Homo sapiens: one gene and its partners. The protein of the gene in region 1 purifies or fractionates together with the protein of each later gene. This does not show direct contact. Each region holds a gene or a part of one and is shown in the gene's direction. Other genes may lie near its edges.

Evidence for each region.
Region 2: the proteins of CTTNBP2 (region 1) and STRN3 purify together in Homo sapiens (affinity purification with mass spectrometry; 4 studies listed by BioGRID and IntAct, with this or other methods). This does not show direct contact.
Region 3: the proteins of CTTNBP2 (region 1) and MOB4 purify together in Homo sapiens (affinity purification with mass spectrometry; 2 studies listed by BioGRID and IntAct, with this or other methods). This does not show direct contact.
Region 4: the proteins of CTTNBP2 (region 1) and STK26 purify together in Homo sapiens (affinity purification with mass spectrometry; 4 studies listed by BioGRID and IntAct, with this or other methods). This does not show direct contact.

The regions. Positions count from the first base shown.
Region 1 is NC_000007.14:117,786,418-117,793,446, reverse strand, and holds part of CTTNBP2 (cortactin-binding protein 2), read left to right. Parts: intron 1-665; coding exon 666-2,319; intron 2,320-7,029. UniProt on the Homo sapiens protein: Regulates the dendritic spine distribution of CTTN/cortactin in hippocampal neurons, and thus controls dendritic spinogenesis and dendritic spine maintenance.
Region 2 is NC_000014.9:30,911,361-30,918,389, reverse strand, and holds part of STRN3 (striatin-3), read left to right. Parts: intron 1-4,732; coding exon 4,733-4,866; intron 4,867-6,207; coding exon 6,208-6,383; intron 6,384-6,565; coding exon 6,566-6,613; intron 6,614-7,029. UniProt on the Homo sapiens protein: Calmodulin-binding scaffolding protein which is the center of the striatin-interacting phosphatase and kinase (STRIPAK) complexes.
Region 3 is NC_000002.12:197,540,060-197,547,088, forward strand, and holds part of MOB4 (MOB-like protein phocein), read left to right. Parts: intron 1-51; coding exon 52-94; intron 95-291; coding exon 292-378; intron 379-7,029. Other genes in the region: HSPE1-MOB4 protein, read left to right, coding at 52-94, 292-378.
Region 4 is NC_000023.11:132,068,302-132,075,330, forward strand, and holds part of STK26 (serine/threonine-protein kinase 26), read left to right. Parts: coding exon 1-22; intron 23-110; coding exon 111-268; intron 269-1,176; coding exon 1,177-1,362; intron 1,363-2,767; coding exon 2,768-2,916; intron 2,917-3,966; coding exon 3,967-4,060; intron 4,061-4,511; coding exon 4,512-4,574; intron 4,575-4,655; coding exon 4,656-4,792; intron 4,793-5,833; coding exon 5,834-5,858; 3' UTR 5,859-7,029. UniProt on the Homo sapiens protein: Serine/threonine-protein kinase that acts as a mediator of cell growth. Modulates apoptosis. In association with STK24 negatively regulates Golgi reorientation in polarized cell migration upon RHO activation.

The DNA.
Region 1 (7,029 bases):
TAAGGGAGTAAGCAGGATCAAAGTAGGAGACAAGGTCAGGCTCCAGGTTCACTGACACCAAATGTAGTTCTAATAAGATCGTTCTTTAGCTCTTTAGAGTTTTCAAAGAACTTTCTTTCATATATAATTTTATATGATTTCCACAACAACTCATCATAGGAAGCTCAAAGATGTTACATTACTGAGATAGGTAATACAATTAGCAAACATGGGGGCTTAGAATTTAACTGAAGTCCTCGGTTTTCAGTACTTTTCATGATACTTTACCTCAGAGATTAATAATTTTAAAGCATTAAACCTTTTTTAAAAATATCACCAATTCCATCACAGAGCTGTGTTTTTACAAAAATAGACCTTTCTGATCCCTGTGCTGTGATTTAAAGCATCTGGTTATTGTTCTCTTTTTCTGTAGTTAACTTCAATAGACTTTAAAAATTCTCTATTGTTGTAATTTAGATGTCTTTATAAAGCCATTTACGTCTATTTTCTCATTTTAATGTGTCTTTAAAATATTTCTTATCACAACACTTTTTGAAAATGTGGCGTTTTTGCTAACCCGAGTTATGTAATTGTTAGAAAATTAATAAAAATCTCACAAAAAGCATTTCCTTGGTGAAAAGAAAATTCTGTATATTAATCAGGGTTTTCCTGTGAATTTCTTTCAGCTGGAAATGGAGAAGCTTCAGCTACAAGCCCTTGAGCAAGAGCACAAGAAGCTGGCTGCCCGCCTTGAGGAAGAGCGTGGCAAGAACAAGCAGGTGGTCCTGATGCTGGTCAAAGAGTGCAAGCAGCTCTCAGGCAAAGTCATAGAGGAGGCCCAGAAGCTCGAAGACGTAATGGCCAAACTGGAAGAGGAAAAGAAAAAGACGAATGAATTAGAAGAGGAACTCTCCGCTGAGAAACGAAGAAGCACAGAAATGGAAGCTCAGATGGAAAAACAACTCTCTGAGTTTGACACTGAGCGGGAACAGCTTCGTGCCAAGCTGAACCGGGAAGAAGCACACACCACTGACCTCAAAGAGGAGATAGACAAGATGAGGAAAATGATTGAGCAACTGAAAAGGGGAAGTGACAGCAAACCAAGCCTCTCTCTTCCACGGAAGACAAAAGATAGGCGTTTGGTTTCCATATCTGTGGGAACAGAAGGAACTGTGACAAGGTCTGTTGCATGCCAGACAGACCTAGTGACAGAAAATGCTGACCACATGAAAAAGTTGCCTTTAACCATGCCTGTAAAACCTTCCACAGGGAGTCCCCTAGTTTCTGCAAATGCAAAAGGGAGCGTGTGCACCAGTGCCACCATGGCCAGACCAGGTATTGACAGGCAGGCTTCCTATGGTGACTTGATTGGCGCTTCTGTACCCGCTTTCCCACCTCCAAGTGCAAACAAAATTGAGGAAAATGGACCAAGCACTGGCTCAACACCAGATCCAACCAGTAGCACACCCCCACTTCCCAGTAACGCTGCCCCTCCCACCGCTCAAACACCAGGCATAGCTCCTCAGAACTCGCAAGCTCCACCTATGCACAGTTTACATTCACCATGTGCCAACACCTCTTTGCATCCAGGTCTAAACCCACGAATCCAAGCAGCTAGATTTAGATTTCAGGGCAATGCTAACGACCCAGACCAAAATGGAAATACTACCCAAAGTCCTCCGTCAAGAGATGTCTCGCCTACAAGTCGTGACAACCTAGTGGCCAAACAACTAGCTCGGAATACTGTGACCCAAGCACTGTCAAGATTTACAAGCCCTCAAGCAGGTGCTCCCTCAAGGCCTGGAGTGCCCCCAACAGGGGATGTTGGCACCCACCCTCCAGTTGGTCGGACCAGTTTAAAGACTCATGGTGTAGCACGAGTTGACAGAGGAAATCCTCCTCCTATCCCTCCAAAAAAGCCAGGGCTCTCCCAAACTCCTTCTCCACCACACCCCCAACTCAAGGTTATTATAGACAGCAGCAGGGCCTCGAACACAGGGGCCAAAGTTGATAACAAAACTGTGGCTTCGACTCCTTCCAGTTTGCCACAAGGGAACAGGGTGATCAATGAGGAGAACCTTCCTAAGTCATCCTCCCCTCAGCTGCCACCAAAACCATCCATAGATTTAACTGTGGCACCTGCAGGCTGTGCCGTTTCAGCCCTGGCCACGTCTCAGGTGGGTGCCTGGCCTGCTGCAACCCCCGGACTGAACCAACCTGCATGTTCAGACAGTTCCCTTGTCATTCCTACCACCATTGCCTTTTGCTCTTCCATAAACCCCGTTAGTGCCTCATCCTGTAGACCAGGTGCCTCAGACAGCCTCCTGGTAACAGCATCAGGTAAAGGGATTGAAATGTTATACGCTTTTTAAAGAATATGGCCTCTCTTCTCACTTGCCTTGATTTTCTTCACATTGCCTTGAAACTTTTTTTTTAAATTTGATGCTTCCCCCCACCCCCATTTCTTTTCTTTCTCTCTCTTTTTTTGTATTTTTTTTAAAGGCTCCAGGGTATGGTGATTCATCTTGCTATATGAATTGCGGTTTCGCTATGCTAAGTGCTTTCTTCATTTAAGATAACCTGAAAGTAGTGGCTTAAAGCACATGGAGACCATTAATTTAGAGAGACTAAAATATTTACATGGGAGAAAAGAGTATTCCTTCTTATTAAATATTTATCTCGCAAGACCTCAGTGGGTCATGATCAGACAGTACGTGTTCAATTCTGTTCCTTCTGAGATGACATTTTTAAAGACCTTTCAAGTAATTATTAACACTATGTTGGATTACCAAATTGACTAGATTTGTTCCGTAATTGGTATATTTTAAGTTCTAATATCAGTTTGGTGTTTTCGGTTTTTTTTTTTTTTACCTTCAGAAATGGAGTGTGAATATTTATAAATCTGTTCTAAGTTTAGTTTATTTCAAAAGCCATGTACCCTATTTAGTGCTGCCATCTTCCAACACTCGGGCACAGATGGTTAACATAGCATGTGGGCTATGTCACAGAAGGTTTCCACTGCAGGTGTGGCTTATGAAGTCACTGAATCTGGGACTCTTGAACAAAGAAGAGGTGGATTTTTCCCTTTTGTTATACAGTGCTAGAGAAAGCATTGCTTTTTACTGACATGACTGGATTAGTTATTTACTAAGCAAATGTGGCTCTAAAGTAATGTTACCAAAAATACATAATTGTAAATGGCAGAGACTGGATTCCAAACACATCTGACTAACTGCAAAGTCCATGCTGTTTTCAATTCCCAATTTTACCCCTCAAAATGTGGATGACAAAGTTCTGTTGACACTTTGAAGAAGTCTCTCCTACCATGGGATCTTAGTGGTTGGTGGAGATTGTTGGTTCAAATGGGAGAGAACTTTTATAATTACAGGAAGGTTTGAACAGTTGTTATATTTAATACTTTGAGGGGAGAGAGAGAAAAGCAAATAGCATCATATTTGCTAATTATCAGGTGATGACAGCAGTACACTAGGATTTATTTGTCCAATTATAAGCTATCAACTTGAAATTAAGGTCTTTGAGAGGCTTTATCCATATTTTGAGGGGCGAAATAGGGAATTGGAAGCAGCATGGACTTGGAAGTTAGATCTATGTTGAAATCTAGTCTCTGCCATTTACAATTGTGCATTTTTGGTGACTTCTTTTGCTACTCATATGGGGGAGGGTGGCTGTTAGGAGGATTGGATCCTATAACCTGTCAGCTTGGTATTGAGCTTAGAATAGCATGAGTAATCAATAAATAGAGGTGATATTACTGCTTCAATGATATTGTTGCTTACAGTATTTTTGAGAATTTGCTATGGAATTGACTTTAGTATTATTTTGAGATGTCTTTACAGGCATTCAGCATTCTATATTTTTGATCCAAAATGGTATTACTGAGTTGAACAGCTTTTCTCGTGGCCTAAAATAATTTTGGCTGTTTCTTACAAATTAAATCCACCCTCAGAGAGGAATTTTGCTACTCAGGAGAATAGAGAATGTACTATAAGATCTTTGGGCAGTCACAAAACACAAGTTCCAGAAATGTGTGGAGCAGTGGCAGTGCTATTGCCATAAATGCATAGACTGTAAAGTAGAAAACACTTCCTAGGATATAGAAGTTTTGTCACTTAAAAAAAATACAAAGCCATCTTTACTTTGAGACCTTGAGGCTTTGCCACTTGTTGCCTTAGTCATTACTGTGGTCCTGGGTTTAGCTGCATGTGCCCTTTGGTTTCGGCAGAGAAGCTTTAAAACCAGGATCTATGACTGAGGAACATTTTGTCAACAGGATTGAAAAGTTAACGGATTAAAATCTGTTAACTTTTAAAGACAGAGATTTACTAATCTATTATCTATTCACCAGGATATCCTGCCCTAGGATTCAGTAAAATTTTACATAAAAGAGCTATAACTCCTCTGAAAAATGCCCTTCACTTATGTCTGGAGAGCAAAAGACAATATAGACCAGAAACCAAAAAAAATACCAGCGACTGAAGATACGGAAATCGGATTCCTTATTTTCTACTCTCTGACTTTTGCAATTTTACCAAAGTATTTTATTTATTTATTCCTCTCAGAACTTCTGAATTACTTTTGGTAGAATAACCAGTTTCTATGTCATTTGCTTAGAAGATGTGGCTTATTAAGGGAGAACGGAGGCACTGGAGGCCTTGAGTCATTCAGCAAGTGTTTACTGAGCACCTAGACTGGGAAATGGAAGTGTGATTACACTTACACAATGGGGGTGTACGACTCTACAACTCAAGTATAAATGTAGTTCAGCTGATCTTTCCAAATAAGATAGAGGATTTCAACTCTGTTTTGCATTTAGATTGCCCCTATTTTCGCCACTGTGACCATTGCAACTAAGAAACACCAGAGCTGCCTCCACCCTGCTTACTAACCTGTCTGTGCCTGGTTGAGCTTGTGCCTCTCCAGGTCATGAGCCCTTTGAAGGGGATTAACCTTCCAAACAGCCACTGATTCCATTGTGATTGCCCAAAGCAAGGCACAGGGACAACACACATCTGTCAAATACCTGGCAGGTGTCTCTTCCAATTTCAGTGATCAAACAAGCACTGAACTAAGTATAGTAAGGCAGGATTAGTCCATTTCTGCCCCTTTCTAAGTATCACCCTAGAGAGCTAATTCCCTCTGAGCCATTAGCTTTTTCATTTAAAAACAAAAGCATTGCTGGCTGCAGTAATCATACCTGTAATCCAAGCACATTGGGAGGCCGAGGCAGGAGGATCACTTGTGCCCAGGCGTTCAAGACCAGCCGGGGCAAAATGGCAAAATCCCATCTTTACAAAAAATATAAAAATTAGCTGGGCATGGTAGTGTGTGCCTGTGGTCCCAGCTACTCAGGAGGCTGAAGTGGGAAGATCACTTGAATTCGGGAAGTCAAGGCTACAGTGAGCCATAATCATGCCACTGTGCACCAGCCTGGGTGACACGGTGAGACCATGTCTCAAAACATTAAACCAAAATTATATAATAATATTCCCGAACAAAAAAAGATTTAAACTTGCATGATAAATTTTCAAACTACCTCTCCCTCCTTGGAGAACTACTGGCCCATGATCTTTCCAACTCTAGAATCCTGTGTTTCCATGTAAGCTTTTATCTATAAAAATTATGACTAAGTTAGAGCCCCAAGGAAAATTGGAATGACAGAAGTTAGCCTTTTAATGAATTGTAGTATAAATTACCCAAACTCTATTTGGCAACCTTTATAGCCAAATGTTAAATTTTTTAATAACATTCTTAATTCTAAATGAACTAGAATTTCTTGTTCCTCCTGAACTTGCCAAATAGACACATTTCAAATGTTAGATGAACAGAAGCCTAAACCAGAAATCACTCCAGGCAACTGAGTTTCCATACCCTTGGAAATTGTTTTTTCTGTTTTTTCTTTTTTTATTTGATACATTTGATTTAATTTGGTTTACACCTTTTCCCTATTGAAACATATCTTTTAAAAATTATCCTCCATGTATGATTGGCTTAAAGGCTAAATCAGAAAACAAGAATGATCTGGGCTATGACATTAACCTTCTCCACCCTCTGAAGCTGATGCCAGAAGCTGTTCTCACTCCTTCCCTCTGCCATTGCATGTCCAGTCATTCCCTTCCTCCTGGCATGTTGTGCAGGATGCTCACCTTACTAATGTTTGCGTATGACACTGCAAAACTGATTGACCTTTTGCTAACATCATTAGAGTAGCTGTATGAATACCGGTCTGTTCTGTCTTAACCACTATTTAACCTCTTAACTAAGTATTACCATTTTTATGATTGTCGGGAATTTCAGATGAACAGTATAGTCTCATGATGAAGTCCTATTTTTCCCATATTTAGGCAGGATTTATTAAAATAAGCTTGTCTATGCTAGACAACATTGGAAATGTTAGTGAAGATATAAAACATATTTACAGTTTTAAAATACTTGGTATTTATAAAGCATTTTTCTTTTGTAAAGATTTTAAAAATATATTGCAGACCTCTAAAAAAATAAGGCAACTGATATATCTTCTGTAGTTCTGTGTAAGAAAACCCTTGAGTGGTCTAAAGATTGAAAACAAATTGAAAAAAAAATTTGTCTTTCGGATAACTTATTAAAAATAGGGTTTCCCAGGAAATTACAGCTGCAATTGAATATTTCCATATAAGGCAGTTGAAAAATATATTTAAACTGTCTCCTCCCCTCAAAAGCCTAGATTTATGGTGAAAAAAGAAAAATGTAAACAAAACCCAAAAGAATAGCAAACCATTTACATATATTGGTATTCATAAAAGAATATCAACAACCAAGACCCCTTGGATGAGATCTAAAGAGAGAATGAAAGAGAGGCTGAGTATGAGCCCCATTCCCTCCTGTTCCACAGAGGACTGTAGTGCGATGCCTTCATATTGCCTGTGTTTGCTTTGCAGTCGAGGTTTTATGCCTTCGTGTTTATAATTTCTCTGTTTATGCATTTCTAATAAGTACTGATTTAATTTTTGTGGGCCTGTTTTTTGTTTGTTTGTTTGTTTTTAAGAAAATACA
Region 2 (7,029 bases), on another chromosome or scaffold:
CTATAGGCGCACACCACCATTCCCCGGCCAATTTTTTGTATTTTTAGTAGAGACAGAATATTACCATGTTGGCCAGGCTGGTCTCGAACTCCTGACCTCAAGTGATCTGCCTACCTTGGCTCCCAAGGCGCTGGGATTACAGGTGTGAGCCACAGTGCCCAATCTGTTACATTAAATATATATTACTTCAAAAAATATATGTAACTGTTACCTAAATTAATCATTTGAGAATAAGGCAGCATCATTATTCTTTAACTTGGTAGCAAGTATACGCTACCTAGTAATGAATTTTATAAAATTTGCCTAAACCAGAAATGTGTAGGAAATGAAAGTACTACTTAAACATTTTTTCCAAAATTGATTTTAGCCGAAGATATATGGGTATACTTGAATCATGTATAACTCTAAGTCTAGATATTTATAAGTATTAAATCTGAATTTTTAACCAAAGATTATTGTGACATATGAGATACAGTAATTTGGCATATGTATTAAGTTTAATTGATGTTATTGCCTTTGCTCTGTAAAGGGGATTTGTTTGATGTCCCAGTCAAAAAATTTTAAATACATCTTGTTCCCTTTTAAGATTTCCCTAGTGGCACAGTTTCCTTACAGTTAAATAATTTTGCATTTTTTCCCTCTCATAATTTACCATTTACTTCACTCACCTTAAAAAAAATCACTAAAGTAACAAAATCATTCAAAACAAAATGAATGAAAAATAAAATAGTGTCTGTTAATTTTTTCAGATCTCATTTCCACTATTGAGATATATTCCTGTTTTACTTTAGAAGTATTTTCTAAAATACACATAGCAACTCCTTTTTTTTTTTTTAATTTTATGCATTTAGTGGTGATTTTGCTTCGTTTTTGGTCTGTTTTGCCAAATATGCATAGTACAACTTGCTAAAATTTTTGTAATTAATGTACATTTAAAGTGCAGGTTTTGCAATTTAAGGCAAAGCCACGTTAGCAATGTGGACCCTTTTAAATGTTTCAAACCAATGACTTAACGGAAAAAGCCAGTCAAGGCACACTCTACACAAAAACCAACTTAGAACTCTCTATGTGTGTTTGTTTATGTGTTATGTGTGTGTTTTAAAGAAAGAATATAGGTCAGTGATCTGTTTCTTGATGCTGGTAGGAGGGCGAGGGGAGAGATTTGATAAGTGTGAACTTCATTACAGTTTTTGAAGTATCGATCTTCCTGGAATTTGTTATTTAAAGAGGTGTGAGTTTGACTTCAAGCTAAGAAGGCAGCTTTGGAGTATACAGTCTCCTTATTTTCAGTGGCAGTCCCCAACTTCCTTCTTTACTTTTGAAGTCCATGTCCTACCTCATTTTATAAAGAACAAATGTCTGTTTTCTAGGAGTGGAACTTCAACATTACAATCTTCTAGACTATTGCTGCTAAAGACTTGAGACCTACCATGTTGCCACTGGTATAAATGGAATCTGTTACCTGGACTAAGTTCTTGGGAAAAAGAGTTCAATATGCGAGCTACAGGTTTCCTTCATCATAAGTGTCCATCAAAAGGAAGATTAGTTACAAAAGTCTGAAAAAGACCTTGTATTTTATAGACCCGTTATACTAGTATTGTTATCTTACTTGATGAAATCTCTTAGGCCTCCTAAATTTCCATCATTAAATTAAAAACTAGGGCAGGCATAGTAGCTCATGCCTGTAATTCCAGCACTTTGGGAGCCCAAGGCAGGAGGATCACTTGAGCCCAGGAATTCAAGACCAGCCTGGGCAACATAGCAAACTCTGTCTCTATTAGAAAAAAAAAGAAGATATTAAAACTACTTTTTTTAGGCCGGGCGCGGTGGCTCACACCTGTAATCCCAGCACTTTGGGAGGCCGAGACTGGTGGATCACGAGGTCAGGAGATCGAGACCATCCTGGCTAACACGGTGAAACCCTGTCTCTACTAAAAATACAAAAAAATTAGCTGGGCGTGGTGGCGGGCGCCTGTAGTCCCAGCTATTCAGGAGGTTGAGGCAGGAGAATGGCGTGAACCTGGGAGGCAGAGCTTGCAGTGAGCCGAGATCGCGCCACTGCACTCCAGCCAGGGCGACAGAGCAAGACTTCAAAAAAAAAAAAAACCAAAAAAACTACTTGTTTAAATAATTACATTTTTCTTTGAATTACTAATGACATTTTTATATTATGGGTAATTATATTACCATTAATAAAATGAATAGGATAGAAATTAATTCCCTCTGCAGGGAAATAAGGGCAAACAGATGAGTAGCTGCTGTGATTACCATATGCCACAGTGATGGGTAATATGGAAAGCAGAGGTAGTAGTGTAAAAGAATTTTTGCACATATATGTGTAAATAGTGATTAAGCAGAATAGCTTGCAATAGGTACATAAATATGTCATAAAATATATGTGTGTATATAGAGAAAAAGGACAGAAATGTGGTCATATGATTAATTAGAAATGAGTATAATACTAATTTTTTGTTAAGTACAATTAAGCCAAAACTCGAGTAAAACTAATGTCCAGACACTTCCCTTCACATGCTCCTAAATTGGTCTGGCTGATCAGAGATAGTCTTGCAAAATCATTTGTTACGTTAAAGTTATTTTATTGGGCTTTTGAGATTTGTGTCAGTGAATGTTTGTATAATTGTGAGTGGGAGGAACTGTGGCATTTTGTTCTGACTTCTCTTAGAAACAAATTCCCTGAGCTTAAAGTAAAAATATTTCTTTGTCTAGAGAAAAATGCTTTGAGTAAATATTATATAATGACTTTTATATAATTATCCTTAAACATAAGTTTAAATTATTGATTTTATAGTTTTTAGCTGCTTCTGGTATTGCCAATAACTGCATACTAATAATTGGTAGGAAAAGATCAAAAGATCAATGCTACAGATTATTCAGATTCAATAAGTGTCATCATTGAAAGATTAAATACTACTTAATATCTCTATATATTTTCTGTCAGGTGCTTTCAGATTCATTTTAGATCAAGTAACTGAATCAGAGCTGCATTTTAGAGCCCTATTTGAGTCAGATTATATAGCTTATTTTGATAGGATAAAATAATAAAATAACAAGATATTCTAAGTACAGTTGAATTTTATTTTGCCATAGTATATATATGAATTGTGTCTTCTCAGAATTATTTCCAGTAGTTTAGTGATGACTGTCAAGTTTCATTACACCTGTTGTGTTTCCTGTAGCATATTTATATCATTTTTCATGGGAATTTTTTTAAAATTGATAATCAGCTTGATTTTTTGTATAATGTGTCCCTTTTAAATTTGCTCATGAATTTTAAGTGTGTTTTGATATATTGAGTTTTATATTATGATTTGAGTATTTCTCCCTTGTTATCTTAATGTTAAAATTTTGCTTTCAAAGCATATTTGAAATGATATTGAAGGTTGTTGCTTAAACTATGACTGTTACAACAAAATATTTAGATAATAGTCATTCAATTATGGCAGAGTTTAATTGGTCAGTAGTATGTATAGAAAGGAAAACGCATTTTAAATAATTGGAACTGTTAATATTAACATGAAAAGCTGTAATAATGCACATGATATAGTTGAGAAAACTAAGTGAAGCTCAACCTGAGTTTAGTTTGAAATTGAAATGGCAAATCTGATCAGAAATTAAAGCTCTGTGGTCAAGATTACTTGCTTCATTTTAGAGTGTCATGGTAACTAGAATGGGACATTAAAATAAAAGTCATAGTCAAAGCTTTAAAGCTGGAAGACAGGCTGGGCGCGGTGGCTCACGCCTGTAATCCCAGCACTTTGGGAGGCCGAGGCAGGTGGATCACTTGAGGTCAGGAGTCAAGACCAGCCTGGCCAACATGGTGAAAGCCCATCTCTACTAAAAACAGAAAAATTAGCCGGGCGTGGTGGCGGGCGCCTGTAATCCCAGCTACTTGGGAGACCGAGACAGGAGAATTGCTTGAACCTAGGAGGTGGAGGTTGCAGTGAACCGAGATCGCACCACTGCACTCCAGCCTGGGCGACAGAGCAAGACTGTGTCTCTAAATAAATAAATAAATAAAGCTGGAAGACATTCTGAAGACCACGTGGATTAACCTTTTATAGAAAGGAAACTGACATTGTTGGTGGAAGAATTTTTTCCTAGACCATTGCTGTTACTAAAGGAATCTGAACAATTAAAGCTTCATTCTAGTGAACTGATATAGTATATAGCTGACTGTAAACCATTTACATTTCAATGTTTGTACTAGTTTTTATCAGGGACTAGGATGCCTAGTACTTCTTTAGAAAGCAAAAGGACTTGGTGACAACCTATTAACATTTAAAAAATACTATATGACTACTTTGAGGTCCTTGAGGTCCATGGTAGAGGTTTCCCCTCATGAATGCAAAAATCTGATATTTAACTCCATTATTTAATCAAAATTTGTCCTATTTCTTATTTAACATGTAAACTATAGTTATAATTGTACTGAAGTGATAAGAGATTTAGACAGACAAAGCTTTTGTGCCCTAGCTTCCACCCCAGAATAATATATCTAGTGCACATTTTATTTGTGGACAGTTAATACACCACAGTTCCAACACATTTGTTTAACACTGCTTAGTAACAGGATTTTTTGAGTAGAAGTGGGAAAATAAAAATTAATTATATTACTGAATATTGTAACTGTTAAGTGCTTAAATTTTCCCCACAATATTGTCTTGTACTGTATGATTTTTCAGCATTTAAGAAGCGGTTTTGTTCTTTATAGCTGAACCAATAACGTTTCCATCTGGAGGAGGCAAGTCATTTATTATGGGTTCTGATGATGTTTTGTTAAGTGTACTGGGCCTTGGAGACCTTGCAGACTTGACGGTAACAAATGATGCAGACTATAGTTATGATGTAAGTGCAGTTTTATTTTTAATTTTTTAATGATTTAATAGAAGGCTCCTTATTTTTTGGAATCACTTATAAAACAGAATTAATATCAAGGTGCATGGAAAAGATAAGTTTGTGTCAATGTGTTGATTTGAAGTGACATGTTTTTCTTTTATAACTACTCTCTTTGTGGTATTTAAATTTTTTTTTTAGGTATTTTGGTGGATTAACTAGAAGTTTGAGATGATTAATATATTGGTCAGTAAATACATCTTGAGTAGTCAACTCTCAATTATCTCAAATTAAGCCATATTTTGGTGTTAACAAGAAAAAAAATAACCTGAATCATATATTTGCCTTCAGAGTACTTCTTAAAAAGCATGTTTTATTTTTGAACTTTTATTTTCTTAAGGAAATATTTTAAAGTTTCTGAACATTTTAAAGTTAGCTTGCATCATTTCCTGAATACTTAACTCCTTCATTAGAGGATTGGGGAGTGGATGGAAGGGTTGGGGAGTGGGGAGTCCAGTGTTAGAGGTGAAACTTGTCTTGGATTTAATTTTTTCTAGTCATTAATATTTCAATTGAGAGTTAACTATACTTGTTAGATCTTTATGTTAATTGCAGTTTTTCAGCAATTTTTTTTTCTTTTTATAATGAGTTTCTTTTTTCCACGTTTTATACTTAACATTAGCATGCTTAGAGACAGCCTTTGGTGGGCTGGATTATTCTCATTAATATATTTTTTTAAGTATATAAGTGACTAAATTCCAGTAAACTTTTGACTGCTTTAGAAGTGGTTTCACAGCCTATCTTTACAGATGGAGAAATGTGAAGGTAAAAAGATAAACCTCTGTCAATATCAAGAATTATGAAAATGGGATAAAAATATTCTTAAAGGGTCTTTAGTTCAGACTTTCAGAAAGTACCTTAACTTGCTGCCTTTAATAATTTCACATGCTAATACGTTTTCTAAATGACAACTTTACTGTTAATACTGTACCGTTGGATATTTGTAATAACTTATGTAATTATTTTTCATGTAAAGTATTGCAGCAATGGTAGTTATTTTGTTCTCATCTGACATTTAATGGGAGCTTTGGGTTTAGCTTAATAGGTAAAAACAGATTAAGGAACTCTTCATTTGACCTAGGCTATTTGTAAGGCGAATGAAATTATTCTGAGTTATTATTAAATGATAAAGTTTTTTTAGAAAGTTTTAAAGGTACATTAAATTTCCACTGGACATTTTAGCCAACAGTTTTAAATATATGTGTTAAACACACCAAAAAGAAACGAACAAACACTCCACATGCCTTCCAGTTTACTACTTTTACCACTAAATATTGTGCTCTTTCCTTTTAGTTGCCTGCTAATAAAGATGCCTTTCGAAAGACATGGAATCCCAAGTATACACTACGTAGCCATTTTGATGGAGTACGGGCATTAGCTTTTCATCCTGTAGAACCTGTGCTGGTTACTGCTTCTGAGGACCATACCCTGAAACTTTGGAACCTGCAAAAAACAGTTCCTGCCAAAAAGCAAGTATTTTAGTGTTAGCCTGGTGTATTTCTTCCAATTTTGCTAATATAAGTAATTATTCCTCATTATTGTTGCATGTCTTTAATGCACACATTTGATCTAATGACTATTTAATATCAACCAGTGATTCATAGTTATTTAATTGCCTTCTCTTCCCCTACCCTTTTTCCCCCTCTTTTAGGAGTGCCTCTTTAGATGTAGAGCCTATCTACACATTTAGGGCCCACATGTAAGTTTTACTGAATTGGTATTTAATTAACATCATCATTATTGTTAAATATTATTTATCGGTCCTCAAACCTTGTAATTTTCTCAATGTTTTGTATTAGAAAAGATGTATTACTTGAATAATAGCTATTTAATAATTGTATTGGTGAGACTATGAATATAATAGTACCATTCAGGCCAGATGCAGTAGTTCATGCCTGTAATCTGAGGATTTTCGGAGGCTGAGGCGGGCAGATCACTTGAGGTCAGGAGTTCGAGACCAGCCTGGCCAACATGGTGAAACTCCGTCTCTACCACAAAATACAAAAATTAGCTGGGCATGTTGGCGTGCGCTTGTAGTCTCAGCAACTCAGTAGGCTGAGGCAGGAGAATCGCTCGAACCTGGGAGGTGGAGGTTTTACTGAGCAGAGATCACCA
Region 3 (7,029 bases), on another chromosome or scaffold:
ATTGCTGTGAAGAATAGATATGACTTTTTATTTATGTATTTGCATTTTCAGGCAGTTCTGCCTTGAGCTAAATGGACTTGCTGTCAAACTTCAGGTAATATTTTCTTTAAGTCAAAGTTATAATTGAAAGTTCTGATTTTTTTTTCTCTGTTTTTATAACTTAATGTGCTTACAAAAACGTATCCACATTTCTAACTTTCTTCTAGAATTTATTATGGAAATATAGTAACCTAAATGATAAGCTTTTTCATTATTATTTTACATATTAAGAAATATAATTATTTTTAACAGAGTGAATGCCATCCAGATACTTGCACTCAAATGACAGCAACTGAACAATGGATTTTTCTTTGTGCAGCTCATAAAACTCCAAAAGAGGTGAGGATTTATGAAATAGAGTAACTAATAAAATTATTATAGCCTAAATCTCTCTCAAGACAATGTTAGACAAGTTTTTAGGGTTTTTAGTTCACTGTTCATTTTGCTATTTCATTTTGAGTTGCTTGTTGTGAAGTTGTTACTGCAGTGCTATTTTAGGATTTCTTATGATAAGCATCATTTTTCATAATTGGGCAATTACATGGGCTAGAACTCACTTCATGATCCACTGGCTATTACGGATTAACATCTGTCACATTGTGCTGATATCTACTGTGTAATGATTGAGATACGCCTGTTTAGGTTTTTGTTCAGATTATTTCTTTTGATAGGAAGAACTATTGATTACTCTGATGCCTAGTTTAAGTAGAAATGTTACTTTTGAGCTTTTAAATATTCATGTTGTTTTTCTCCTTATTTAGTTTTTGTCAAGGTAAGACTATAGGCAGTAGCAGTTTTTTGTTTTGCTCTTTTTTTTTTTTGAGATGGATTCTTACTCCGTTGTCCAGGCTGGAGTGCAGTGGTATGATCTCGGTTCGCTGCAACCTCTGTCTCCGGATTCAGGAGATTCTCATGCATCAACCTCCCAAGTGGCTGAGATTACAGGCATGCGCTATCATGCCGGGCTAATTTTTATATTTTTAGTAGAGATGGGGTTTTGCTATATTGGCAAGCCTGGTCTCAAACTCCTGACCTCAAGTAATCTGCCCACCTCAGTCTCCCAAAGTGCTGGGATTACAGGTGTGAACCACTGTGCCTGGCCTACTGTACTTTTTCTTATTTAAAAAATTTCTTCATATCATCTGATACCCAGTATACTTTTCCTTAGTTGTCTCCAAAATGGTCTTTACATCTGGGTTGTTTATGCATTGCTTTTCCCTTAATCTGTATTCCCATTTAATCTGTTATAATTACTTTTTACTTGACACTGACTCACTGGGGATATTGGGTTAGGCCAATTCTGTAGAATCATAGACCTTGAAGTGGTCATTATATTGATAGACTTCTAAGGCTTGAAGACAAGTGAGGCCCTAGTTGCAAAATCAATATCTGATGTTTTTTGTTTCAAAAAGGACAAATGCTCCAAAATAAGGAGTATTTGATACCTAAGAGAATAGTACTTATTTGGAAGACTGGTTTCATTCAGGATGTCACATTTTTATGTTAATTAATTGAAGCAGTATTAAGATTGTATCTGTCGGCCGGGCGCGGTGGCTCACGCCTGTAATCCCAGCACTTTGGGAGGCCGAGGCGGGCGGATCACGAGGTCAGGAGATCGAGACCATCCCGGCTAAAACGGTGAAACCCCGTCTCTATTAAAAATACAAAAAATTAGCCGGGCGTAGTGGCGGGCGCCTGTAGTCCCAGCTACTTGGGAGGCTGAGGCAGGAGAATGGCGTGAACCCAGGAGGCGGAGCTTGCAGTGAGCCGAGATCCCGCCACTGCACTCCAGCCTGGGCGACAGAGCGAGACTCCGTCTCAAAAAAAATAAAAAATAAAAAAAATAAAAAGATTGTATCTGTCTACATCTGGGAAAATCCACATAGTGGTTTCATTGATAATTCACTGAAGTTGGCTACTTAACGTAGTGAATGATGTGATTATTGCAATTAGGAAACTGAATCAAGAAGGCTGAATCAAGGCTAGTTTTGTTTTGGCAAATAGTAATGATGTATTATTCTTTCTTTAGAGTGGAAGTGATATCCAGTTTGTGATGTGTTATGACTCTTAAATATACTGTCATTCTCATATCCACTTCTTTCTTGATTAATATTAAATGACAGGATAGTCATTAGCATTAAGACCTGTAAATTGAGTCTTAGAATTGCAGCATTGCTTGCTGAAGTCCAGATCTGTTGAACTGGCCATGTGTCAAGGGAGGGTGATAGTAGGATTTCCAAGTGGTAGTTATATTGAGTGGAGTTACTGTAAAAATACAAACAAAAGAACAATTTGAAAGGACACTTTCTGAACTGTTTTTGAATAACTGCTTAGTCAGGAAACTATAGGAACTGACAAACTAAGCTAAGAAAATTGCTCTCATGGATTAAAATCACTAGGGAGATTCTGAAGTGGGAGCAGCAGAATACTTAGCACCAATAATCATTTATTCAGTATCCTTGAGAATTAAAGAGAGGCATTCAGCATATAGAGTAAATTATACAAATAGTGCTTCTAGGCGACAAACATTATAACTTACTGTCTACAAGCCCTCACAGTCACATGCTGATTGTGATCACTTGCAGTAGCATTATGATTATATATTTGGAAAAATATAATACATAAAAATTTGTAAACACCATTACATAGTATTTTGTAACCTGCTATATTTTGCCATTTTTTGCTGTTATAACTGTTACAGAGTAGGAATAGTTACCTGAGAATTAACTGGGGGAAGGTGAAGGGAAGGCAGCTAAAAACAATGCAAAATGTCATCCAAATTAAAAATTCAGAAACCAGTTAAAGGTCTAAAGATACAGTGATGTGGTAACCCATGAGCCCCATGTAGCTGTGTAGCACTTGAAATGTGGGTAGTCAAAATTGAAATATGCTGTAAACACAAAATAAATACTGGATTTCGAAGACAGTAACGCCTGTAATCCCAGCACTTTGGGAGGCCGAGGCAGGTGGGTCACCTGAGGTCAGGAGTTCGAGACCAGCCTAGCCAACATGGTGAAACCCCATCTCTACTAAAAATACAAAAAATTAGCTGAGTGTGATGGGTGTGCACATGTAGTCCCAGCTACTAGGGAGGCTGAGGTGGGAGAATCACCTGAGCCCAAGGACTCAAGGTTGAAGTAAGCAAAGATCACACCACTACACTCCAGCCTATGTGACAGAGAGAGACCATGTCTCAAAAAAAGATTCAGAAATGGCCAGTAAGCACATGAAAAGATGCTCAACATTAGTTATTAAGGCACATCTCAAAACCACAGACAGTTGGTGCGAGGGTTGTGCGTTATTGTTATGCTGATTAACATTGTCTCCTCCACAACCATGCTTGATAAGGGAAAAAAAAAAACCACCGTGAGAATGGAGAAACAAAATGTAGCATGGACATACAATGAAATATTATAAAACCATGAAAGGGAATGAAGTTCTGATACATGCTACAACACAGATGAACCTTTAAAATCCAGTATGTATTATGTGGAGTGAAACAAGTCAGATGCAAAAGGACAGATACTGTAGCATTCCACTTATCTAGAGTGAATAAATTCATATAGACATTTGAAGGTAGGTAGAAGCTGCCAAAGGATGGGCGGTATGGGAAGTTAGTGCTTAAGGGTAATAGACTTTTTTCTTTTCTTTTCTTTTTGAGACAGAGTCTTGCTCTTTTGCCCAGGCTGGAGTTCAGTGGCGCAATCTCGGCTCACTGCAACCTCCGCTTCCCAGGTTCAGGCGATTCTCCTGTCTCAGCTTCCCAAGTGGCTGGGATTTACAGGCATGTGCCACCTCGCCTGACTAATTTTTGTATTTTTAGTAGTGACATGGTTTCACCCTATTGGCCAGGCTGGCCTCGAACTCCTGACCTCATGTGATCCGCCCACCTCAGCCTCCTAAAGTGCTGGGATTATAGATGTGAGCCACTGCGCCCAGCCGAGTTTCTTTCTTTTTTTTTTTTAAGAGACAAGAGTTTCGCTCTGTCGCCCAGGCTGGAGTTTCACTCTGTTGCCCAGGCTGGAGTGCAGTGGCACAATCTTGCCTCACTGTAGCCCCCACCTCCCAGTTTCAAGCAGTTCACTGCCTCAGCCTTCTGAGTAGCTGGGACAACAGGCGTGCACCACCATGCCAGGCTAATTTTTGTATTTTTAGTAGAGACGGAGTTTCACCATGTTGACCAGTTTGGTCTCAAACTCCTGGCCTCAAGTGATCCACCTGCCTTGGCCTCCCAGTGTGCTGGGATTATAGGCATGAGCCACCATGCCTGGCCATAATAGTTTCTGTTTGAGAGTTGGAAACAGTGAAGATGGTTGCACAATATTGTAAATTAATGCCACTAAATTGTACATTTAAAAATGGTCAAAATAGCTGTCTGGGCGCGGTGGCTCACGCCTGTAATTCCAGCACTTGGGGAGGCCAAGGCGGGCGGATCACGAGGTCAGGAGATCAAGACCATCCTGGCTAACACGGTGAAACCCCATCTCTGCTAAAAATACAAAAAATTACCCGGGCGCTGTGGCGTGTGCCTGTAGTCTCAGCTACTTGGGAGGCTGAGGCAGGAGAATGACGTGAACCCTGCAGACGGAGCTTGCACTGAGTGGAGATCACATCACTGCACTCCAGCCTGGGCAACAGAGTGAGACTCCGTCTCAAAAAAAAAAAAAGGGTCAAAATGGAAAAATTTGTGGTGTATATATTTTACTACAATTTTTTAAAATGTTAAGAAAAAAGCATCAAAACCCCAAATGGCATATACTTTCATACCCACTATAATGGCTAAAATAGGAAAGATAGACAATAACAAGTGCTGACGGGGATGTGAAGTGGAACCCCTAAACATTGATGATGGGATTGTAAAATGCTTCAGCTATTTCAAAAAACAGTTTGGAAGTTCCTTAAAATGGTAAGCATAGAGTTGCATACGACCCAGGAATTCCACTCCTTGATATGTAGTTCCCCCAAAATGAAAACATTTATCTGCACAAAGACTTGTACATGAATATTCACAGTCACATTATTTATGATAGCCAAAAAATGGAAACAACCAAATATCCATCAACTGATGAATGGATAAGCAAAATGTGTTGCAGCCATCTCTCAGTAGCCTCAGAGGATTGGTCCCAGGACCCCCATGAATACCAAAACCACAGATACCAAAGTCTCTTATATAAAATGGCATAGTATTTGCATATGACCTATGCACATCCTCCTATATACTTTAAATCATCTCTAGATTACATATAATACTGAATACAATATAAATGCTATATAAATAGTTGTTATACTGTATTTCTTAATTTGTATTATTTTTTATTGTTATGGGGTTTTAAAGTGTAGTTTTGATCTGCAGTTGGTTGAATCTGCAGATGCAAAGTGCTGACTGTATGTGTACAATGGAATAATATTCAGCCATGAAAAGGAATGAAGTCTTAAAGGGAGAAACATACAGTACGGCATTTTGTATATATTAAAAACATTAAAGGCTAAAAAGTTTTGAATTTTAAAAAAAGGAATGAAGTACTGATTCATACTACACCATGGATAAGCCTTGAAAACATAATAGAAGCCAGACACAAAATGCCACTTATTATATTATTTCATTTTAATGAAATATCCAGAATAGGCAAATCCTGTGAAACAGAAATTAGGTTGGTTGTTGCTTAGGGCTGGGGGAAGGAGAGAATGGGAAGTGACTGCTAATTGGTTCAAGGTTTCTTTTTGGGATGCTGAAATGTTCTGAAATTTAGTGGTAATGGTTGCAGAATTTTGTGAATATACTAGAAACTACTGAATTTTTAAGAGTAAATTTTAGTTGTATCAATTATATCTTAAAAGTCAAAAAGTAGCCCATTAATTTTATATCAATTACCTGCTGAAATGGTATTATTTTGGATATAGTGGGTCAAACTACAATATTAAAATTAATTTCACCTCTTTCACGTTACCTTTTTATTTTTTATTTTTTAATTTTTATTTTTGAGACGGAGTCTCACACTCTTGCCCAGGCTGGAGTGCAGTGGCGCGATCTTGGCTCACTGCAAGCTCCGCCTCCCGGGTTCTTGCCATTCTCCTGCCTCAGCCTCCTGAGTAGCTGGGACTACAGGTGCCTGCCACTGCGCACAGCTAATTTTTTGTATTTTTAGTAGAGATGGGGTTTCATCGTGTTAGCCAGGATGGTCTTGATCTCCTGACCTTGTGATCCACCTGCCTCGGCCTCCCAAAATGCTGGAATTATAGGCGTGAGCCACTGCGCCCGGCCTCACGTTATCCCCTTTTTAATGTATCTCTTAGAAAGTTAATTAATTAATTTTTTGAGACGAAATCTTACCCTGTTATCCAGGCTGGAATGCAGTGGCCTGATCTTGGCTTACCTCCCTTGACCTCCTGTGCTCAAGCAATCCTCCTGCCTCAGCCTTCTTGGTAGCTGGGACTACAATCATAGTGCCACCATGTCTGGCTAATTTTTCAAATTTTTTGTAGAGATAGGGGCATTTCCCTGTGTTGCCTAGGCTGGTCTTGAACTCCTGGACTCAAGTGATCTTCCCACTTTGGCCTCCCAAAGTGCTGGAATTACAGGCGTGAGCCACCACATTGGGCCTAGAAAATTTAAAATTAAATATATGGCTTGCATTATACAGTTGACCCTTGAACAACTCCGGGATTGGGATCCCAACCCTCTGTGCAGCTGAAAATCTGAGTATCTAACTTTTGACTCCCCCAAAACTTAATTACTAATAGCCTACTGTTGACTGGAAGCCTTACCGATAACAGTCGATTAACACACATTTTGTATGTTCTGTGTATTATATAGTGTATTGCAATGAAGGAAGCTAGAGAAAATGTTATTCAGAAAATCATAAGGGGCTGGGCGTGATGGCTTATGCCTGTAAACCCAGCACTTTGGGAGGCTGAGATGGGAGGATCGCTTGAGGCCAGGAGTTCGAGACCAGCCTGGTCAACATAGTGAGACCTTCTTTCTTTCTTTTT
Region 4 (7,029 bases), on another chromosome or scaffold:
AAAATTCACCGAGACATAAAAGGTATACAAAAGTCTAATATGAACCTGAGAAAAATAGAAGCATTCTGAGCAAGCTGAGTTTTTTTTTGCTTTTCTTTTTTTCCTCCTAGCTGCCAATGTCTTGCTCTCAGAACAAGGAGATGTTAAACTTGCTGATTTTGGAGTTGCTGGTCAGCTGACAGATACACAGATTAAAAGAAATACCTTTGTGGGAACTCCATTTTGGATGGCTCCTGAAGTTATTCAACAGTCAGCTTATGACTCAAAAGTAAAGTATTACCTGTACAAACTGTTTTGGGCTTGTTAATAAATTATATATGGCACACTATCCTAGTTAATACACTGCCTTATTTTTCCTTGTTTCACAAGTGTTTCTTAAGCTAGAGTTATGTCATATTTTGCTGCTTAATCATAAATTCCCTCACAGCTAACTAATATTTGGACCCTATTCACTTCAATGGCTTTTCATCCCACGTGGAATAAAATCCTAAGTCCTTTCTGTGACATATAAAGCTCTACACAATCTGGCCATTATCTGCCTTTCCAGTCTTATCTCCTACCACTCTCTTCTAGATTATTCATCCACAGTGGCCTCATGGTTGTTCCTCAAACATAGCAAGTACACCCTGGCCTCAGGACCTTTGCATGCCCTTCCCTCTGTCTGAAAAAACCTTCTTCCCACAATCAGGTCTTTGCTTAAATATCACCTACGCAGGGAAGTCTTCCCTGGCCATCTTATGTAAATTTGCAACACCCTTCCCCCCATGATTCATTATTCTCTTACTATGCTTTGTTATTTTCTTCACAGAAGTTAGCACCGTCTGGCACCATATTATTTATTTATTTATTGTCTTTCTTATTAGAATGTAAACCCCTTAAGAGCAGGGATTTTTGTCTGGCTTATACACTACTGAAATCCTCCATTCCGAGAAGGGTACCTGGCACAAAGTATGGAATTCATTATGTTTTACATAAATGAATTCTACTAATAAAAATTTATTAACACCACATTTTCTTGAGAGACAAGTACTGTATAGCCATTAGGTTCCACAGACTATTTTGTGGTAGTATATTGGAATGGAGTTTCAAGGTGATATACATACATACACATATATATATATATATATATATATATATATATATATATATATTATTTTCTTTTTCCTTTTACGTTAGGCTGACATTTGGTCATTGGGAATTACTGCTATTGAACTAGCCAAGGGAGAGCCACCTAACTCCGATATGCATCCAATGAGAGTTCTGTTTCTTATTCCCAAAAACAATCCTCCAACTCTTGTTGGAGACTTTACTAAGTCTTTTAAGGAGTTTATTGATGCTTGCCTGAACAAAGATCCATCATTTGTGAGTATATATTGCTATTATTACTATTTGTTTTCTATTATTAGATCTACTTATAGCAAAGGCAGCTTTTCCTGCAGTAGGGAATACAGTGTATGTGAGAATTGTCTAAGATCCATCCAGGAACCTGGTTCGTCCTTCTGTATTGCTATTTCTATTGAGTTCTTAACCAGATTCTTCATTCTTTTTCTCCTTACCCTTCGTTTTTTTCTTGATCCTCAGCTTCCTCCTTATTCTATTCATTATTTCCTCTTTCAGGGGGAAATAAATTTGAGAAATAAAGTTAACTTTATATTATGTCATTATTAAAGTGTATGTATAAATACAATGATTTTTGTTCAACTGTTTTCATTTTTCATGAAAAGTTATATTTGGGTTTAACTATTTTTTTTTTTTGAGATGGAGCCTTGCTCTGTTGCCCAGGTTGGAGTGCAGTGGCATGATTTTGGCTCACTGCAACCTCCAGGTTCAAGCGATTCTCCTGCCTCAGCCTCCCAAGTAGCTGGGATTACAGGCACCCGCCACCATGCCTGGCTAATTTTTGTATTTTTAGTAGAGATGGGGTTTCACCATGTTGGCAAGGCTTGTCTCGAACTCCTGACCTCTAGTGATCTGCCCTCCTCAGCCTCCCAAAGTGCTGGGATTACAGGCATGAGCCACTGTGCCTGGCCAGGTTTAACTATTTTTATTTGGTGTTTAGAAACTTCAATGTGAAGTTGTATACTTTTCCTAGGCTAGTGAGCTCCATTCATTTACTTGGTGGATTCTATTACAGTTGTTTTACTGTTGTTGAAATAAAGCTGCCTTGTGACTTTTTGAGACGAGAAATACACAAGAGCAGTCCAAACTTGATATAACTATTTTTAAGTTGATGATAAACATTCTCATGTTAATAAAATGAAGGCGGAACATCCTCCACAGCACCTGGTGTTTGCATTTAGATGCAATAGACATTGATTTGTGATGGAGAAGGGATTATATGTGTAGATAATAACAAAATTACAGCCTTGCAAGTTTTCATCAGGTTTTTTCAAATTTACAGTAAATGTGATTAAAGTATTTTAGAACACTACTTTGAAATGTTTTTAAATGTTTACTTTCTAAATACTGTCATGTGTCTCTCTGCTTTTGAGAAGGCCCTGCCTGCCAGTTTGCTGGTGGGTAAGCCACCTGCTGCCCGTTGGGCTTTAACAAATTGGGACACCAAAGTAGTAGATTCAATGTGGTTGCCTTGAGCCACTTCAATAATAGAATTAGCTATTTTCCTACAGCATTTTAGTTGTTCTTATGTCTACAGACATACCTTTATACCTTTCAGCTTAATAATTCAAATGATTTTTTTTACCATTCCTTGTAATCATAAGAGTTCAACAATTGTCATATGCAGCCTTGATCTTTTTATCCTTAGCGTCCTACAGCAAAAGAACTTCTGAAACACAAATTCATTGTAAAAAATTCAAAGAAGACTTCTTATCTGACTGAACTGATAGATCGTTTTAAGAGATGGAAGGCAGAAGGACACAGTGATGATGAATCTGATTCCGAGGGCTCTGATTCGTATGTACAAATTATTTAATTTTTATGTAGGCAGCCTATTTAAATATTGTATATCTTTTAGCTATGCTCCAGTGTGCTTGTTCTAGCATAAAATATAAACCATATTTTGAAATTTCACCTTAGAAACTGTAAAAATCTTTTTCAATCACAGTCTGTGGAATACAATGGAGTTGGAAACATGTTTTTCTTGGAAGTGAATAGCTCTAGTTTTAAATGGTCTTGGTCTAACCCCTAGTGGATACTTGAGTATATTACAAAATTTTGGAACAGGATTCAATTAAAGGTGTTATATTAGTTTGCTCAAAGTAATAAGGAGCTGTGTTTTCTCATACTTTGATGGCAACCTGCAAAATCCCTCTAAAGAACTGACCTCCAGGCTTTTCCCACCTCTTGGCCATGTACCAAACCAAGATCAGACTGATACATTTAAATATTCATTTATGCATGATTTTTATTTCTTGAAAAAGTTGTAGGGTTTTATAACAGCAGCGTTTACATTAAAAATTCAGCCTCTAAGTCTGTCAATTAATTTAGACTAGGAAAGTCTGTATGCTATGCCAGAATTTAGTCCTCCACCAGCTGAACTGGCACAAAGGCAACACCAAATTTCTTTAGATACTACTCTGAGATTCTTCCATTTATGAGAAATTGTCCAATGTTGGAAAGGGATAAAAAATATCAGAATAATTTGTGCCCTATTCTAATGGGTGTTAGCCTTAGCTTCCCATAAGAGTCACTCATGGAACCTTAAAGCAATCACAAGCCACACCACTGGAGATCCTGATTCAATAGGTGGGGAGTAGTGAGGGACAGGTATTTATCTATGGTAGGAGGTCTCAATGAAGCACACACAGAGTTGAGAACCACTCCACTACTACTCTGTAGTAAAATGTAGTATTCGCCTGAAGCTGAGATCAGATGCTTTTTTGCATCATGAGTTTTTAAACATTGGGACAATTATCCCTTTAGATTCTACCTGCATTGATTTGGTATTTTTGCCAAGCTGAATCATTTGGGCACTTATAGAGGTATCTTTGGCAATCTCTTTAGGGAATCTACCAGCAGGGAAAACAATACTCATCCTGAATGGAGCTTTACCACCGTACGAAAGAAGCCTGATCCAAAGAAAGTACAGAATGGGGCAGTATGTATATGGAGACAATTACTTACTCTTCATACAGTTTTTCAAACCATGTAGTGAGATGATAATGGCCTAAAATTGTTAGGATTGAATACCCCTAAATGCCTGTCTGCCTCACTGTGTTTGTAGTATGCTTCATTTGTCATTAGTTTTGAGCTAATTAAGAAAAGTTAATAGAAGTTATTTAAGTGGCCATATTGGTATTTTTTAAGTGCATTTCACCTGGAGATACATAAGCCCAGGGAATCATAGGTATCTATTGTAATCCCAGAAGTTAGAGGACTTCTGGATGATGAATGAGAATGAATGATAGGAAGAAAGCTTAGAGACTTGCCTTGCATACAATCTTTTGTTTTCAGTAGGGGATTCAAATTAGTTCGTATTTGTTAAAGAATAAGAAAATCATGACACTTATTTTAATTTCATGTGTATAATCTATATTATTTGTTCAAAGGAGCAAGATCTTGTGCAAACCCTGAGTTGTTTGTCTATGATAATCACACCTGCATTTGCTGAAGTAAGTACAGATTAATTAGCCTTGGATATCTGTGTTAAGTAGTATAATATTTTAAATGTTTTAACTATTATTCTTTCTCAGCTTAAACAGCAGGACGAGAATAACGCTAGCAGGAATCAGGCGATTGAAGAACTCGAGAAAAGTATTGCTGTGGCTGAAGCCGCCTGTCCCGGCATCACAGATAAAATGGTGAAGAAACTAATTGAAAAATTTCAAAAGTAAGTTGGAAATGTCATTTTAAAAATTATTTTGCATTTTCTGTTGTATGTTAATTTATGATGCAATGTAATTCCTTTGATTCAACCATTCCAATTATTCCTAACAAAGTCACCTTTCAATACATAGTTGTATACTTAAAAATAGTTTTTGTCTGTTGTCTATCTTAAACATTAGCTTTTAGAATGATTATCTTTAGGCATGACAAGGTAGTTTTCCACTGCATGAAATGACCTGTTTTTCTTTCTCCACTAGTAGGATTATAGACAAAAGGTCACTGAGCATATTCTCATTTGAGCTCTTATTAATATAATTGTGGAATGCTTTCTTTCTTGCCACTACCCTCAGAATTTAACAAAACACCACTAGTTGCATAGTTTCCAGTGCTAAAGTTCCTACGTTTGATCTCCATATGAAAAGTTAAGGAAAAGGTAGAGGGACTCAATCCAGACCAAAAAAGGGCTCTTATGTTCAACTTCAGTTTCTATGTTGTCTCTTGAAATATTCATTTGATTTTGTTCGCATTCAAAAAAGTTCTTACATTTAATTTTTTAAAAAATTTTCAACAAGACTTTTGTATGCATGCACACATATACACTCCTTAGCTCAAGCAAGCTATAAGGTGATACTGATTTTAGCCTTGACCCTGCTATATCTCTTCTCAGTGCATCTTTATATTTCTTTGTGTTTGTGATGCCACTGGGATCGAGATGGAACAAACTCTGTGACCTGTGAAATCACACACTCTCAAAGATCTTTCTATCTGATAAGGCTCACTTGTACTCGCAAACCTAACCCCCTCTTAAAATCCCTTATATTTTAATGAAAACCCCCCATTTGAAAACAAATCAATCGGAAGTTGTGAAATCAGATGCAGAAGGGATTTTTTAACTTGTTTATATTTTAACATCTACATGATAAGATTCAATAGAAACAATGTATCCCTTTTGTGGAATCAGTTTCTTCATTGCAGAGTTCATACAAAGGAGAAATATAAACATGCATAGTTGTACATTGGTTTAAATTTTTTAAAAATTTTATAGGTGTTCAGCAGACGAATCCCCCTAAGAAACTTATTATTGGCTTCTGTTTCATATGGACCCAGAGAGCCCCACCAAACCTACGTCAAGATTAACAATGCTTAACCCATGAGCTCCATGTGCCTTTTGGATCTTTGCAACACTGAAGATTTGGAAGAAGCTATTAAACTATTTTGTGATGGCGTTTATCATTTTATATTTTGAAAGGATTATTTTGTAAGGAATAACTTTTAATACTATAGTTTCACCTGTATTCTAGTAAATGTTGAGACACCGTTTTGCTTTTAAGTATCCCTATTTCTTAAGTTACGAGGATGAATACCTTTCACATTTTGATCTTTAGTTGACTCTACAGTCATGAAACATACAGGTCTTTCAAAGTCATTCTCAATATTCAGCTTTTGTAAATTATCAAGCTTCAAAAAGCTTTTTTTTTTAAAAAAAAACATGCATATTCTAAAAATGACTATTGGTGGGGAGGTGTAAATAAGTCATACCTTCTTAAAACAGAAAATTTAAGTAAAGTCTTTTAAATGAAACCTGTAAAAGTATTGACTCTTCTACCAAGTTGGTATGATATTCCAGGCAGCTCAATGATTATCACATTTGAGACCCTGTGTTTGAAGCATTTACAGGCAATGTACAGCAACAGAGGTACCTCTTGGTGTATAGTATTTACATTCTCTTTTAGGTAGAAGAGGCAATTTTACCCTTATTTCACATGGTTAGAAATTTAAAGCAAGATCATTTACCCAAGGATAGGTGTTTGGTAATGTTGAAGGAGTTAGTCTGGCTTCATGTTTTACATCTTCAACTAAAATCCCATACTATCTGCTTGGATTTGGAGAGCCAAAAAATAAAGCTGATTGTCATGTGATTAAATATCTGATCAACAGGTATGAATATAACTTAAATCAGCATATTTTTGCCATGGTAATAAATTGTCCTATAAACTATTTATATATTTTTGTTCTTCATAATTATCACTAATAAGCATCAGTTTGTTGTTTTTAAAAGGATATTTAAGTGAGCATTTTCTAGTTCATATGAAAATAACCATAGTACAGGATGATTTCTGTCCACACAAAGGTTAAATTAGATTGCACAGTTAATTTTCACTTATATTTATGGTACTATTATGTGGGTGATGCCTTTTTCTTTTAAGCCCAGTACATATATTATGCCTGCCTAAGTTCTGA